Linked DNA regions of Homo sapiens: region 1 is linked to region 2. The links come from fine-mapping of genetic effects on gene expression. Tissue or cell type: whole blood. Region 2 holds a variant in brackets; the other region holds the start of a gene. All regions are shown on one strand. Distances are between the middles of the regions.

The links. PIP is the estimated chance that this variant, and not a neighbour inherited with it, causes the effect.
Region 1: it holds the start of GIPC3, and the variant in region 2 is fine-mapped to the expression of GIPC3 in whole blood (INTERVAL, PIP 0.95).

Annotation. Positions count from the first base shown.
Region 1 is chr19:3,581,658-3,589,721 of GRCh38, forward strand. It overlaps GIPC3 (GIPC PDZ domain containing family member 3), which reads left to right and starts at 3,821. Exons shown (of 6, transcript NM_133261.3): 1 at 3,821-4,165; 2 at 4,838-5,023; 3 at 5,157-5,337; 4 at 7,786-7,898. The coding sequence starts at 3,941.
Region 2 is chr19:3,659,031-3,667,097 of GRCh38, forward strand. It overlaps PIP5K1C (phosphatidylinositol-4-phosphate 5-kinase type 1 gamma), which reads right to left. Exons shown (of 18, transcript NM_012398.3): 3 at 5,792-5,884; 4 at 2,841-2,971; 5 at 1,936-2,053. Among named protein-coding and RNA genes, the nearest start is that of CACTIN, 36 kb to the left of the region's middle. RefSeq lists an enhancer at 6,237-7,067 and a silencer at 6,997-7,106. The variant C/CG (reference allele first, on the strand shown) is at 4,191.

The DNA of each region.
Region 1 (8,064 bases), 77 kb before region 2:
TGGAGTGCAATGGCTGGATCTCAGGTCACTGCAACCTCCACCTCCCGGGTTGAAGCGATTCTCCCACGTAGCTGGGATTACAGGCACTCACCATCAAGCCTGGCTAATTTTTGTATTTTGAGTAGAGATGGGGCTTCACCATGTTGCCCAGGCTGATCTCAAACTCCTGACCTCAAGTGATCAACCCACCTCAGCCTCCCAAAGTGCTGGAATTACAGGCATGAGCCACCATACCCAGTCAATTTATTGGTATTTGTGAGATGGGGTCTCACTATGTTGCCCAGACTGGTCTTGAACTACCGGGTTCAAGCGATCCATCTGGGCCAGCCTCTCAAAACGCTAGGATTACAGGCATAAGCCACTGCACCCAGCTGTTTCTTTGTGGTTGAGACAGGATCTTGCTCTGTCACCCAGGCTGAAGTGCAGAGATGCCATCACAGCTCACTGCAGCCTATACCTCCTGGGTTCAAGCAATCTTCCCATCTCAGCTTCCCAAGTAGCTGGGACTACAGGTGTGTGCCACCACACCCCGCTAATTTTGTATTTTTTGTAGAGATGGGGTCTCACCTTATTCCTCAGGCTGGTCTCAAACTCCTGGGCTCAAGTGATCCTCCCGCCTCGGCCTCCCAAAGTGCTGGGATCACAGTCAAGAGCCACCTCACCACACCCAGTTTTTGGTGCTTTGTTACAGCCATCATGGGCGAGTCAGACAACCTGATACTGCCAACCCCCCTCACTCCCCACCCCAGTTTCACCCTGTCCTGGCACAGGTACCACCACCTTAAATTTAGAGTTTCTCATTTCTAGGCAGGCCTGGAAAATAGCATTTTGCAGCAGTTTTTTATTAAAAAAAATTTCAGTATACAATTCAGTAGGTTTTGGTACATTCAAAAAGCTGTGTGGGCTGGGCACAGTGGCTCACGCCTGTAATTCCAGCAGTTTGGGAGACCGAGGCAGGCAGATCACTTGAGACCAAGAGTTCCAGACCAGCCTGGCCAACATAGTGAAACCCGGTCTCTACTAAAAATACAAAAATAGCCAGGGATGGTGGTGCATGCCTGTAATTCCAGCTACTTGGGAGACTGAGGCAGGTGAATCCCTCTCTCTCTCTCTTTTTTTTTTTTTGAGGCGGAGTCACGCTCTTGTCTGTCCCAGGCTGGAGTGCAGTGGCGCGATCTTGGCTCACTGCAACCTCCGCCTCCCGGGTTCAAGTGATTCTCCTGTCTCAGCCTTCCAAGTAGCTGGGATTACAGGCACATGACACCATACTCAGCTAATTTAATTTTTGTATTTTTAGTAGAGATGGGGTTTCATCATGTTGGCCAGGATGGTCTTGATCTCTTGACCTTGTGATCTGCCTTCCTTGGCCTCCCCAAGTGCTGGGATTACAGGGGTGAGCCACCAGACCTGGCCTTTTTTTTTTTTTTTTTTTTTTGAGACAGTCTCACTCTGTTGTCCAGGCTGGAGTGCAGTGGCATGATCTTGGCTCACTGCAACCTCCGCCTCCCAGGTTGGAGCAATTCTGCCTCAGCCTCCCGAGTAACTGGGACTACAGGTGTGCGCCACCACACCTGGCTAATTTTTGTGTTTTTAGTAGAGATGGGGTTTCACTGCGTTGTCCAGGCTGGTCTCGAACTCCTGACCTCAAGCAATCCGCCTGCCTCAGCCTCCCAAAGTGCTGGATTACAGGCATGAGCCACCGTGCCCGGCCTTACATAAAATTTCTTACCTCGTCCAAACCCTCCTGCCACTTTCTTTTCTCTCCCCATGTTCAGTTTGTGAGGCTCCTCCTGGGCGGAGGCTGTGACTGGCTCTGCTGTAGGGCCCGCCACTGCAGGCAGGATGGCTGTTTATTGAGCCGACATTCCTGGGTAGGAATCTGATGGATACGTAGGTGTTTCTGACATTGCACTCCAGCGGATTTTTACCAACGCCTCCTGGTGCCTGGGGTCTCCTCCTTCATCTGTGACCTGGACATCCGTTCATTCCTCACCAAAGATCACTGGGCACCTGCTGTATGCCAGGCACTGTGCCCTGGACACTGGGCATGGGGACAGAGCAGGGGAACAGCCCCCACCCTCCTGGAGCTGACATTCCTCCAGTCCTGGGGACAAACAGGACAAAAGATGAAATGAAATATCAGCAGGGGGCTGGGGCTCAAGCCTGTAATCCCAACATTTTGGGAGGCTGAGGCGGGAGGATTCCTTGAGGTCAGGAGTTCGAGACCATCCTGGCCAACATGGTGAAACCCCCGTCTCTACTAAAAATACAAAAAAAATTAGCTGGGCATGGTGGCAGGTGCCTGTAATCCCAACTAATCAGGAGGCTGAGGCAGAAGAATCGCTTGAACCCGGGAGGCAGAGGTTGCAGTGAGCCGAGATCGTGCCACTGCACTCCAGCCTTGGCAAGAGAGAGAGACTCCGTCTCAAAAAATAAAATAAAATAAAATATCTGATATGTCAGATGGTAGCTTTAAATGCTGAAGAGAAGCTGGGCACAGTGGCTCACATCTGTAATCCTAGCACTTTGGGAGGCCAAGGCTGAAGGATGGCCTGAACCTCCTGGTCTTGAGTTTGAGACCAGCCTGGGCAACACAGTGAGATCCCAACTGTACAAAAAATTAATCATGTTTCTAAATTAAATTTTAAAAAACTGAATGCGGCCGGGTGCGGTGGTTCACGCCTGTAATCCCAGCACTTTGGGAGGCCAAGGCAGGTGGATCACCTGAGGTCAGGGGTTCGAGACAAGCCTGACCAACATGGTGAAACCCTGTCTCTACTAAAAAATACAAAAATTAGCCAGGCATGGTGGTGTGCGCCTATAATCCCAGCTACTAGGGGGGCTGAGGCAGGAGAATCGCTTGAACCCAGGAGGTGGAGGTTGCAGTGAGCCGAGATCACGCCATTGCACTCCAGCCTGGGCGACAGAGCTAGACTCCGTCTCCAAAATCAAACAAACAAACCAAAGGCTGGGCGTGGTGGCTCATGCCTGTAATCCCAGCTTTTTTGGAGGCTAAGGTGGGTGGATTCCTGAGGTCAGGAGTTCAAGACCATCCTGGCCAACATGGTGAAACCTCATCTCTATTAAAAATACAAAAAAATTAGCCGGGCATGGTGGTATATGCCTGTAATCCCAGCTACTGGGGAGGCCGAGGCATGAGAATTGCTTGAACCTGGTGGGCAGAGGTTGCAGTGAGCTGAGATCGTGCCACTGAACTCCAAACTGGGTGACAGAGCGAGACTCCAGCTCAAAATAAATAAATAAATAAAAATAATAAAATAAAATAAAACAATGACCTCGCCTAGCAGAGGGTGAGTGCTCCAGCACCCTCAGCTGTCCCTGTCCTTTTTTTTTTTTTTTTTTTTTTTTTTGCGACGGAGTCTCGCTTTGTTGCCCAGGCTGGAGTGTAATGGCGCCATCTCAGCTCACTGCCACCTCCGCCTCCCGGGTTCAAGAGATCTCAGCCTCCCGAGTAGCTGGGATTACAGGCGCCCGCCACCACGTCCGGCTGATTTTTGTATTTTTGGTAGAGACGGGGTTTCACCATGTTGGCCAGGCTAGTCTTGAACTCCTGACCTCAGGTCATCTGCCCGCTTCGGCCTCCCAAAGTGCTGGAATTACAGACGTGAGCCACCGCTCCAGGCCTGTCCCTGTCCTTATTTGTGGTCCCTGTTCTTCCAGGGTCCTGAGCTCAGGCCCCCCCGGACTGCGGGTATCCCCGGGGAGGGCACAGCTGGCCCTGGCAGGGCCCGGACACCTGGGGCCCGACCCACCCCTGCGCACCCCGCGGTGTCGCCTTCCCGGGAGGCTCGGGTTCCCAGATCCCCTTACCCGGGCGTCTCGGCTGTCGCGCCCTGGGCCGGGGGAGGGGAGGCTGCAGGAAGCGGCGGATCCGGCGGCGGCGGCGAGGGCCCGGGTGGGTGGCCGAACTTCTCCCGCCATGGAGGGAGCAGCGGCCCGGGAGGCCCGGGGGACCGAGACCCCGCGCGCGTCTGCGCCCCCGCCCGCGCCCTCGGAGCCCCCGGCCGCGCCCCGCGCCCGCCCGCGCCTCGTCTTCCGCACGCAGCTGGCGCACGGGAGCCCCACGGGCAAGATCGAGGGCTTCACCAACGTCCGCGAGCTGTACGCCAAGATCGCCGAAGCCTTCGGGATCGCGCCCACCGAGGTAAGGAGCCCGGACACCGGCGCCCAAGACCACCCGCCTGATGGGGTGAGGGGTAGGGAGCTTGGACCCTGGACGGGAGACCCCAGATCCCCGGATCCCAGACGTCGGGGTGGCCGCCTAATCGCCGGATCTCAGAGACCCAGCCCTCAGATCCCGGGGTGCCACACTCCCAGGGGCCCCCTTTGCACGCTCTGCGCAAAAGATGGGCAGGTCTTAGGACTAGCGGACCCCTAGATATTCCAGAAAATCCTCTGCGCAGACCTAGCTTGGAGCGGACCCCAGCCCTCGGGGAAGCGCCTCTGTGCTTCCTGGGCGTAGCTGGGGTCTGGGGTTCCAGATGGCCCCCTTAGGGATGGGAAGTTTGAGGCCGCCGTGGGGTTGGGGGGTTCCTGGGCGTTTTTCCAATCCGGGTTCGTTTGGTTTGCAGCCCCCAGGGGGCGCCAGCAGATTAAACCTGGAGGTCTGGGGGCTGGAGGTCCCGGGGTATGGAGAGGGGTCTCCACCTGCTGGAAGTCTCCTTCTCCCTCCTCTCTCTGTTCTGGGGGTCCCACGCCCTGCCCTTTCCCATGGGCTGGGATCCTGGTCGCTGGGGGCAGGGGCCTGCGCAGACAGGGTGGCTGCGTGGGGGGATGCATGCCCTGGCTAACTCTAGGCTCCTTCTCCCCCGGGAAGATTTTATTCTGCACCCTCAACAGCCACAAAGTGGACATGCAGAAGCTCCTGGGGGGTCAGATAGGCCTGGAGGACTTCATCTTTGCCCACGTGCGAGGCGAGACCAAGGAGGTGGAGGTCACTAAGACAGAGGATGCTCTGGGGCTGACCATCACGGACAACGGGGCTGGCTACGCCTTCATCAAGGTGCCCGGGAGGGGGTGGGCGGGTGGCTTCCTGGGGTCCAGCAACTGCCCCCCCCACTCTGGGTCGACGTGGGTTCTGCGGATTGGAGGCGGGTGGCTGGGGTTGCCCTGCCAGCGACGCTGGATCCCTGCAGAGAATCAAGGAAGGCAGTATCATCAACCGGATCGAGGCAGTGTGCGTGGGTGACAGCATCGAAGCCATCAACGACCACTCCATTGTGGGCTGCCGCCACTACGAGGTGGCCAAGATGCTCCGGGAGCTGCCCAAGTCCCAGCCCTTCACCCTGCGCCTGGTGCAGCCCAAGAGGGCCTTCGGTGAGGCGGGTGGGCTGGCGGGAGCTCTTCCCGAAGTGCGTTCTACGGATGCCTGGGGTGGAGGAGGGTCGGGGATGGGACGGGCTGGAAGGTTCTAGGTGCACCCGCTGCGTGCCAAGGAGCTCCTGGCAGGGTATCAGAAACTCGTAGGTAGTTTCTATTAATAGATTGTTATGGAGTCAGCCTGTGGGGGAGGGGTGGGGGAGAGACTGGGTAAAGTGGAGTTGGAGGAGGACGCGTCCAGAACCACTTTGGAGCCAGGCTGGGAGACTTGTTTTTGTTTGTTTGTTTGTTTGTTTGTTTTTGAGACGGAGTCTCACTCTGTTGCCTGGGCTGGAGTGCAATGGCGCGATCTCAGCTCACTGCAATCTCCACCTCCCGGGTTCAAGCGATTCTCCTGCCTCAGCCTCCCGAGTAGCTGGGACTACAGGCACCCACCATTGCGCCTGGCTAATTTTTGTATTTTTAGTAGAGACGGGGTTTCACCATCTTGACCAGTCTGGTCTCGAACTTCTGACCTCAAGTGCTCCACCCGCCTCAGTCTCCCAAAATGCTAGGATTATAGGCGTGAGCCACCGCGCGCAGCCTGGGAACTTTTAAAGCAGTGCTTTGAGGTCATGGTGGATTGTAGAGAATGAGAATATGAGAAAAAAGTTTTCTTTCTTTTCTTTTTTTTTTCCTTTCTTTTTTCTTTTCTTTTCTTTTTTTTTTTTTGAGACGGAGTCTAGCTCTGTCGCCCAGACTGCAGTGCAGTGGCTAGATTTCAGCTCACTGCAAGCTCCGCCTCCCGGGTTCACACCATTCTCCTGCCTCAGCCTCCCGAGTAGCTGGGACTACAGGCGCCCGCCACCACACCCGGCTAATTTTTTGTATTTTAGTAGAGATGAGGTTTTACCGTGTTAGCCAGGACGGTCTCGATCTCCTGACCTCGTGATCCGCCCACCTCGGCCTCCCAAAGTGCTGCGATTACAGGTGTGAGCCACCGCGCCTGGCCGTGCCAGCTAATTTTTAATTTTTTTCTTTTTTTGAGACGGAGTTTTGCTCTTGTTGCCCAGGCTGGAGTGCAATGGTGTGATCTCGGCTCACCACAACCTCTGCCTCCCAGGTTCAAGTGATTCTCCTGCCTCAGCCTCCCAACTAGCTGGGATTACAGGCATGTGCCACCATGCCTGGCTAATTTTGTATTTTTAGTAGAGATGGGGTTTCTCCATGTTGGCAGGCTGGTCTCGAACTCCCGACCTCAGGTGATCTGCCCGCCTCGGCCTCCGAAAGTGCTGGAATTACAGGCATGAGCCACTGCACCCTGCCCATTTTTTTTCATAACTAGACTTTCTCAATGAAGAAAACAGTGTATTGATTTACACACTAGCACATTCTCCTCATGTAGCCATGGGTTGGCCCTTTGGATAGCGTTGTTCTATAGAACAGAGACAGAGATTCTAGAAGTGCCCCAGCACACATGGAGAGACGTCCCAGGGAGAGTGAGCTGTATGGGGTTCTAGAATCTGCCCTGCCGTGGCTGTGAACTCCAAAAGCCATGCCTAAAAATAGAGTTTAGGCCGGGCGTGGTGGCTCACACCTGTAATCCCAGCACTTTGAGAGGCCAAGGCAGGTGGATCACCTGAGGTCAGGTGATCCATCGTATCAAAAAAAAAAAAAAAAAAACCTGGCTGGGTGCAGTGGCTCAAGCCTGTAATCCCAGTACTTTGGAAGGCCAAGGCGGGTGCATCACGAGGTCAGGAGTTCGAGACCAGCCTGGCCAATATGGTGAAACCCTGTCTCTACTAAAAATACAAAAAATTAGCTGGGCATGGTGGCAGGTGCCTGTAATCCCAGCTACTCGAGAGGCTGAGGCAGGAGAATCGCTTGAACCTGGGAGGTGGAGGCTGCAGTAAGCCGAGATCGTGCCATTGCACTCTAGCCTGGGTGACAGAGCAAGACAACATCTCAAAAAAAAAAAAAAAAATCAAGCTTAGTCTGAGACTAAACCCAGCTCTAGAGCCCAGGCCAGCTCTCAGACCAAGCCCTGCTCTTAAGCCCAGGCCAGCTCTGAGACTAAGTGTGTTTCTAGCACCTCAGTCCTGACACTAAGCCGGGTTCTGGAACCCAGACAAGAACATATCTAGATTGAGGATCCTACCACAAGGAGGGTCCCAAGCAGTCCCTTCTAGAGAAAGTCGCTAGAAGAGGGAGAGTGAGGGCATGGAACTGGGATGTTAGTTCTAAACCTGCTCCATTACAACACCTCATTCTGGACTTGTGATTTAGTTTGCTGGGGATGCGAAGTGTGGAATCTCGAATAGGTCTCTGGAGACTTGCCGTACAGATGTAAGGAGGACTTTGAAGGGGAGGAAGATTCTAGAAAGGCTCGGCTGTTGGCCTCCCAGGGTTTACAAAGATGTGGCTCCACCCAGAACCCATGGCCATCCCTCACTCTGTTCCCTCCAGATATGATTGGCCAGAGAAGTCGGTCCAGCAAATGTCCAGTAGAGGCGAAAGTGACCAGCGGGAGGGAGACCCTGCGGCTTCGTTCTGGGGGGGCTGCCACAGTGGAGGAAGCGGTGAGTGAAGGGGAGGGGCTCTCCCCAGGCTTCTGCACCTTCAGCTCCTCCACTGAGTCAGTGCGGTCTTGGGTAAGAACTTCTCCTCGGAGCCTCAGTTTCTCTGCCTGCAAAATGGGTCCTCATTGAAAAGTGGGGCAATGATGTTGGTACCAGCACTACTGAC
Region 2 (8,067 bases):
CTCCTTCCTGGCTGTCCTGAGCTGTGGGCCTTCCTGGAGCTACCCCCCTTACCAGGGGGGACTGTGACCTCAGCTGTCCAATCAGAGAAGCACCGGCAACCTCGAGTCCCCTCCGAACCCTACCTGTCCCCACTCAAGCTCAGGGGCCCTGTGGACAGCAACACGCACACTAGCCCGTCCTCCCGCTGTGGCACACGGCCACACTCACACCACAGCCTGGACAGAGGCTAGGGGGCTGCCGCCTGCTCAGCACCGGAGGCCCCCAAGAGAATTCTCACACTCCTGAGATGAGCAGAAGGATTCGGGGGTCACCAACACCGGGCTGGCTCCCCAGATGCTGTGGGTGCACACCTGGCCTAAGGCCCTGGAATGCGATCTTATCGGGTTCTAGGTGAGACCCAGATGGCCCCAGATCGGCTTTTATCCGTCCACTCCTGCTAATGGACACGGGTGCTGTCTCTCTGCTACGAGCCAGGCTGCTGCCTTCTGTTCCTGGCCGCCTCACACGGTAGCGTCCAGGTCACCCGAGGGCCATTTCTAGGCAAAAACCCCAGCTGTGTTTTCACTCCCCACTGCCCTGCCAAGCTCAGGCAAACGCTGGGACACTGAAGTCCGGAGGCTGGGCCTTGGCGACACGACCCGGAGCATGGTGACTCCCGGGCACCTGAACAGGCTGGAGTTCTCGGGGCGGGGGAGGGGGGGGTGTCACACGTACCCCTGGCTGGAGCACATGCTAGTTCTCCCTGGAAGAGCGCAGCCTCGGGCGCTTCCTACAGACTGAGATAAACCAAACGCACGCACAGTCAGCAACCACCAAAGAAAGGCACAAGGAACCGACCACCGCGGGTGAGGGCAGGATCGGAGAACCACAGGCTCCCGGCCCCGGGGACCGTGCTGTCGTGACAACCAGAACGCCAACCGCACTTGTCTACAGAGTTCCAGTCTTCCCTGATACAAAGTTCTCGGGATGACCAGGCAGGCTTGGGAAAAGGCCACCCGGAGCTTTTAGAAGTGGTGATGGCGCAGGTTGGATGCCGGGGCTCACGCCTGGAATCCCAGCACTTCGGGAGGCTGAGGCGGTAGCTCACGCCTCTAATCCCAGCACTACGGGAGGCTGAGACAGGCAGATCACGAGGTCAGGAGATCGAGACCATCCTGGCTGACACGGTGAAACCCCGTCTCTACTAAAAATACAAAAAATTAGCCGGGCGTGGTGGCAGGCACCTGTAGTCCCAGCTACTCGGGAAGCTGAGGCAGGAGAATGGCGTGAACCCAGGAGGCGGAGCTTACAGTGAGCCGAGATCGCACCACTGCACTCCAGCCTGGGCGACAGAGCGAGACTCTGTCTCGAAAAAAAAAAAAGGGGGTGCTGGCGCTGATGAGCTCCAGGGCCACTGTGGGGAGCACCACCCTCCAAACACCTCTTTTAGGAGCCCGGATAATGGGCTGCTAGGTCAAAGGGGTTGGCCTAGATTTTGACTTTGCTAACCTGAAACAATAAAGCCATGGCTAGAGCTAGGAGGTCCGACTCTACGCTGGTCCCCAGTGGCACCCACGTCCCAGTGCCTTGTTCTAACCCTTAAGTCTGAAAATGGGTCAGTCACTTTGGCACCAGGCTGCAGAAGACTATACCAACTGTTTGGTGAGTGGACACCCTCGCCTGCTCTGATGACAAGGCCCACATGGTGAGGAATGGAGGCTCCCAGCCAACGCCAGCCAGGACGGAGTCCTGCAGCTGCCAGTGATGTGAGCTTGGAGGCCGATCTCTCCTGCTTTCCCGGTGAGTCTCACAGGAGACTCCGGCCCTGAACCTGACCATAACCCTACACGAGGAACCCAGGGAGGCTGCCCCCAAATGCCTGACCCACAGACCCTCCGAGACCCTGAACATGTTCTGTTTCAAGCCTGGAAGCCCGTAACAGCAAATATGCTTACCAAGTAATCATCTGGCCGGATCCCAAAGAGCTCCCGGAAGTAGCGGAAGGCGACAGGTGCATAGGTCTTGAAGCGGAAGTCCTGGAAGTGGTGGGCGGGGGTGAGGTTGCTGCCTTCGCTGTGGAGGAAGGACGGGAGGAAACCTGTGAGGGGTGGTGGGCACCTCTCCCCCACCCCCGCCATGGTCCCTCCTAGTGCCTCTAGCAGCTGAGCCTCTAGCGGCTCAGCTCCAAGACTTCCTTGAAACGGCCCAATCCCACAAGCAACAGGGGGCTCCCGATGGGACTGTCCCCCAGTAACCACCCTCTCTTCTTTCATTAACAACGGGGCCCACAGTGTTGGCCAGGCACATGGCCGCCAAGAACAGGACCATGCCGCCCCAGCCTCTTGCAGCTAGGTGTGCTCACGTGACTGCACTCAGCCAATGACACGAGTGGAGCAGAAACACTGGTCATGTCCGAAAGGGAAGGGCTGTTGTTCTCCTTCTGTTGCCTCCTGTGGCTGGAATGCAGCCGTGATGGCAGGAGCTTTGGCAGCCACCTGGGACCACTGGTCACAGAGCTGTATATTGAGGATGGCGGTGTGGGGTGACCAGAAGGATCCCAGGACCCCAACACCATGGAACCTCCTGACCAGCCCTGCACTGCCCACTGGTTATTTGTAGATTAGAAAAGAGCTAACTTCTATCTTTTCTTTTTCCTGTTCTTAAACTGCCTTTACATTGGGTCTCTGATTCAGCAGCAAACAAACGTCCTGACGGACAGAGGGCCAGAGCTCAAGGCCAAGGAGGCGCCAGGAGGGGCCAGGTGCTGCTTTCAGCAGAGAAGGGCGCTCAGGACAGGCCACTCCGCCTCAGAGCCACGTGTGTGCTGGGTGAGCCCTGAGGCTCCGGGGGCCCGGCCCACCTGGGGAAGAAGATGCTCTCCACCACGTAGAAGTCCTGCATGAGCACGTCGCGTTCGGGCTTGGAGCTCAGGTGGCCCACGGTGTAGCCGATGCCCAGCTGGATGGCACCCTTCAGGGTGGAGGAGGTGGTCTGCAGGGAGACCAGAGTGTCAGGGCCCCCGGCTGCTCCCCACGCTGCCCTGCACCCCCTGTGTGCACCGGGGGGTGGAGATCGTGACCAGCTGCAGCTTGGGACCCGGCACCTGCCAACCCCCTCCTGGTGGTCCCCGGGGCTGCCTGTCCTGCGGCTGCTGAGCTGTCGACATCAGGCCGGGGGATGAAGCCACCCTCCCTCGGGCCACACAGCCAGGACAGGGCTCGGCTGCAACTGCCGCACCACGTCACTCAGCCCTCCCAGTCCTGTTGGCTAGCTAGGTTCTAAAGGTTCTCCCATTTTGAAACAGCTCCAACTTAGCAAAAGGGTCGATTCACTGTCAAGAGTTTGTTTTTAGGGGGTACCATTTACAGCGAGATGCCCAGATCACTTTCACATCTGCAGACGCAGGTTCCCGTTAGCTGCTTTCTATGTAACGCACGTGGTCACACTGGGCAACCCACATGGCCGCTATGTGCCTCAGTTTCCCTGCCTGTAGACAGGGATGGGCACAATGGTTCTGGCCCTCTTGCGGACGTGGTGTCAGCTGCTGTTATTATTTTTATTTGTTTATTTTTTGAGACAGAGTCTTGCTCTGTCGCCCAGGCTGGAGTGCAGTGGCGCAATCTCAGCTCACTGCAACCTCCACCTCCCAGGTTCAAGTGATTCTCCTGCCTCAGCTTCCTGAGTAGCTGGGATTATAGGTGCGCGCCGTCACGCCTGGCTAATTTTTGTATTTTTAGTAGAGACGGGGTTTCACCATGTTGGCCAGGCTGGTCTCGAACTCCTGACCTCAGCTAATCCACCTGCCTGGGCCTCCCAAAATGCTGCGATTGCACGTGTGAGCCAGCACGCCGGCCCCGTTATTATTTTTTGAGACAGAGTCTTGCTCTACTGCCCAGGCTGGAATGCAGTGGTGCGATCTTGGATCACTGCAACCTCCGCCTCCTGGGTTCAAGCTATTCTCCCGCCTCAGCCTCCCAAGAGCTGGGATTACAGGCACGCACCAGCACACCCGGCTAATTATTTTTTTGTATTTTTAGTACAGACAAGGTTGCGCCATGTTGCCCAGGCTGGTCTCCAACTCCTGACCTCTGGTGATCCTCCCGCCTCGGCCTCCCAAAGTGCTAGGATTCCAGGAGTGAGCCTCCGCGCCCGGCCGGCTGCTGTTATTTTTGCCATTGGCATCGTTTGCATTATTCTCACTGTGTGCTCT[C/CG]GCGCCATGTTCACTTTAGCCCTGGGAAGCCGGCTCATACCTCCGCTCTCTAATTCCGGTCTCCAGTGCTCCTGTCGCAGGTGCGAGGTGGCAGGGAGGGAGGTCGGGAGTTGGGAGTTGGTTTCTGCCACTGCCCAGTTTCGGCCTGTCTCCCTCCTAAGCCACACTCTGGGTGGTGGGGGGTCTGGCCTGTATGTTCACCTCCCCGAGATGCCACGGACAGAACAGACATGTGCCCAAAGATAACATACAAACGGCCCTGAAGCCCGCAAAGACGCTCCATGCCACTGGGCACCAAGGGAAAGCACATCAAACCACAGGGGGGCCACGCACCTGGAATCCCGGCCAGTCGGGAGGCCGGGGTGGGAGGATCCCCTGAGCCTGGGAGTTCAAGACCAGCCTGGGCAACATGGTGAAACCCCTGTCTCTACCAAAACAAACAAAAAGACACCTCGAAGAGACACCACCTCACACCCATGAGGACGCCAGAATCAGAGACAACAATCACGAGTGCTGGTGAGGACACGGGGACGCTGGGCCTCATTCACTGTTGCTGGGTGTGAAAACGGTACCGCTGCTATGGAGAACAGTTTGCGAGTTTCTCAAAAGATGACACCGAGTTACACGTGACTTGGCAATTCCACTCCTGGGTGTCTGCCCGAGACAAACGAACACATGTATCCACACAGACTCACACACACGTGTCCTCAGCAGCACAATTCACAATGGCCAGGAGTGTGAAGCACCCGAGCGTCCATGACGCAGCAAAGGACAAGTGCAGCACGGGCGCCCCACGCACCAGAACACGACTCAGCCATGAACAGGAGCAAGGCTCTGACACGGGCCCCAGTGCGAATGAACCCTGAGGACGCTACACTCAGTGAGAGACGCCAGACACAGAAAGCCACACAGTGTGTGATTCCACTTCTATGACACGTCCAGGACAGGCTGATCCACAGACGCAGGAAAGGGATGTGGGTGCCAGGGCTGGGAGTCGGGATGGGGGTGACTGCTAACAGGGACAGAGTTGCTATTTGAGCTGATGCAATGTTCTGGAATTAGAGGTGACGGCTGCACAACTCTGCATATGTACTAAAAGTCATTTACTGCACACTTTAAAGGCTGAATTGTACAGTATATGAATCACATCTCAGTAAAACGGTTACTTTTGAAAAAACAGGCCCTAGGTGGGGGTGGGAACAGAGTGGGGGTCAGGCTTCCTACCAACACGGTGTGAGCCAGGCCAGCCTCAGAGTGTCCCATCCACTGCCCGAGGTGGTGGTGGGGTCCATAACCCCTCTCCCTCACCAGGGCCGAGAGCCCAGGCTCTGCCCGAGGTTTCAGGGACTCAGAGCCGGGCAGGCGTTGCAGCCAGGCTGAGCCACAGAACATGCTGCCCGGCCGCCCGGCAAGGACAGCAAACAGTGGGGCCTCATGCAGGACTGAGGACTCCAGCCTCTGCCTCCACACAGCCCACACCTGTCCCTGGGCAGACCCTGGTTTGTGTCGGGGGCGATAGGCCCCATCCATGCTACCAGTGGGATCCCCCTCCCCTCTGCTCTGTCCCGCTCCCTCCAGCCAGCTAAGGGGAGCCGAGGAACCTTCTTGTAGGTGGTTTCGCCGGATGCGTCCACACCTCGATGGCCCAACTTCTTCCCATGGCCAGGGCCCGGCTGTGCCGTCATGGACAGAACCTGGGAAGAGGAAGCAGGAAGCGTTAACTCCCTAAGGAGCACGCCCACCGGGACAGGGCACGCTCTGAAACCCTGGGAAGAAAGGTTTAGTCGTTGGGCCCAGCAGGGGTGCACAGGGCAGGGGGCAGGTCCAGGCGACTCCGGGGTGCAGCAGGAGGCCCCTCACCCGTGGGCGCCTGGCGGGCTGGCTGGGGCCCCTCAGTGTCCCACACTGGACACCCAGAAGCGCTCACTCCAAGGTGGAGACCTCTGCCTCCTCAGGAAGGGCAAGAGGATTGGGCAGCTCCAGCCCTCTAATTCCAGGGTCTCCCCCAGGTGCTGTGGACACTGGGGCTGGACCGTTCTTTGGGGTGGGGCCACCCTGGGCACAGCAGGGTGCTGAGCAGCATTCCTGGCCTCCACCCACTCCATGCCAGGAGCACCTCCCAGTTGTGGCAACCACAGATGTCCCCACACAACTCTGCAAATGTACTAAAAGTCACTCACTGCACACTTCAGAGAGTACAGTATGCAAATCACATCTCAGTAAAGTGGGTATTTTTTAAAAAAACAGGACTGAGGTGGGGGTGGGAACAGAGCGGGGGTCAGGCTTCCTGCCAACACGGTGTGAGCCAGGCCAGCCTCAGAGCATCTCACCCACCGCCTGAGGTGGTGGTGGGAGTCGTAACTCCTCTCCCTCACCAGGGCCCCTAACTGTGAGACCGCTGGGATGGAAGGATTGAAAAGACCACCTTGTCCCTGAGGGAGATGGTCTCACTGGCCAGGGTCAGGCCCGGCTCCTGCAAGCTGTCGGGCAGCGCGGGTGTCCCAGCAGATGGGACCGCCGACCCCAGGGGGCCTCAGCTTGTTGCCCTCGAGGGAGGATGTGAGGAGGGGCCTTGGGAGCCTGAAGGGACACAGAGGCCAACCAAGGAGAACAGCCCCGCCTGGCACCGTCATTTAAGGAGCGCCACTGCGTTTGCTAGGAGACCCCATGGACCCTCCACTGGCCAGACCCCATCCCACCGCTATCAGCCCCAGGGACACGCCTGCAGCCCTGACCCCTGCCCCTGCCCTCCCTCCACAGCCGACGCTGCTCAGCCATGTTCCCTGCATTCTCCCAGGTGGCCGCCAGGGGGCAGGCTCTCCCCAGGAATTCACCCCGCCACCCGGGCCACCCTCCACCCGCGCCACCCTCCACACTGCCCCCACGCCGGGGGACTCTGAGGAAGGATCCCAGGGTCCCAGGCCTGGTGGACAAAGCCCTCCAAGCTCTGGCTACGGACGCAGGGCCAAGGGTGGCCCAGGTGGGACAGGTGCCTTGGGGACTGCTCCTGTGAATGGGGCTCATGGACAGGTGCCCTGAGGACTGCATGCGGGAAGACGGGAGATGCAGCAGCTCGGGTGCCCTCAGAGGACGGCCCACCCCACTGCGCCCACTGGGGCTGGGAAGAAGGCCACTCGGCGCCACGGGGCTGGCAGAAGCTGCAAAGGCAGGGCCAACGTGCAGAGAAAGCTCTCGGGAGGAGACGGGCAGCAATGACAGGACCCATGTACATGCAGATGTGCACACACACAGACAAATATGCACACAGGCAAACACACGTGCAGACGTGCACACAGGCAAACGTGTACATACGCACGCAGGCAAACAGGCACACAGGCAAACACACATGCACTCAGGCAAACATGAACACAGGCAAACACGTGCACACACGCACGTAGGCAAATGAACACAGGCAAACACGTGCACACATGCACGCAAACATGCACACACACAAACGTGCACACACACAGGCAAACATCCACACAAGCAAAAATAGATGCACACACGCACGCAGGCAAACATGCACACACACAAACGTGCACACACGCACGCAGGCAAACATGCACACACACAAACGTGCACACACGCACGCAGGCAAACATGCACACATAGGCTGCACACAGCCTCACTGTGCACTACGCCTGTGTGGCTCACAGACACTGAGGGCGTGGGTGCAGCTGGTAGCCTCGGGCATCGCCCTCTGGGCAGCGTCTAACCCTCCAGCCAGGTCTTCCATTCCTGCCCCCAGTCCCCCGGCGAGAGCTGCTCTCTCCCCACCGCCCACCCCCCAGAATCCAGGCTCCACGTGGCCTGGAACCCAGAGAAGCCCTTCCTGCCCCTGCAGCCCTGACCAGGCACCCCTGCCACTGAGGGTGTG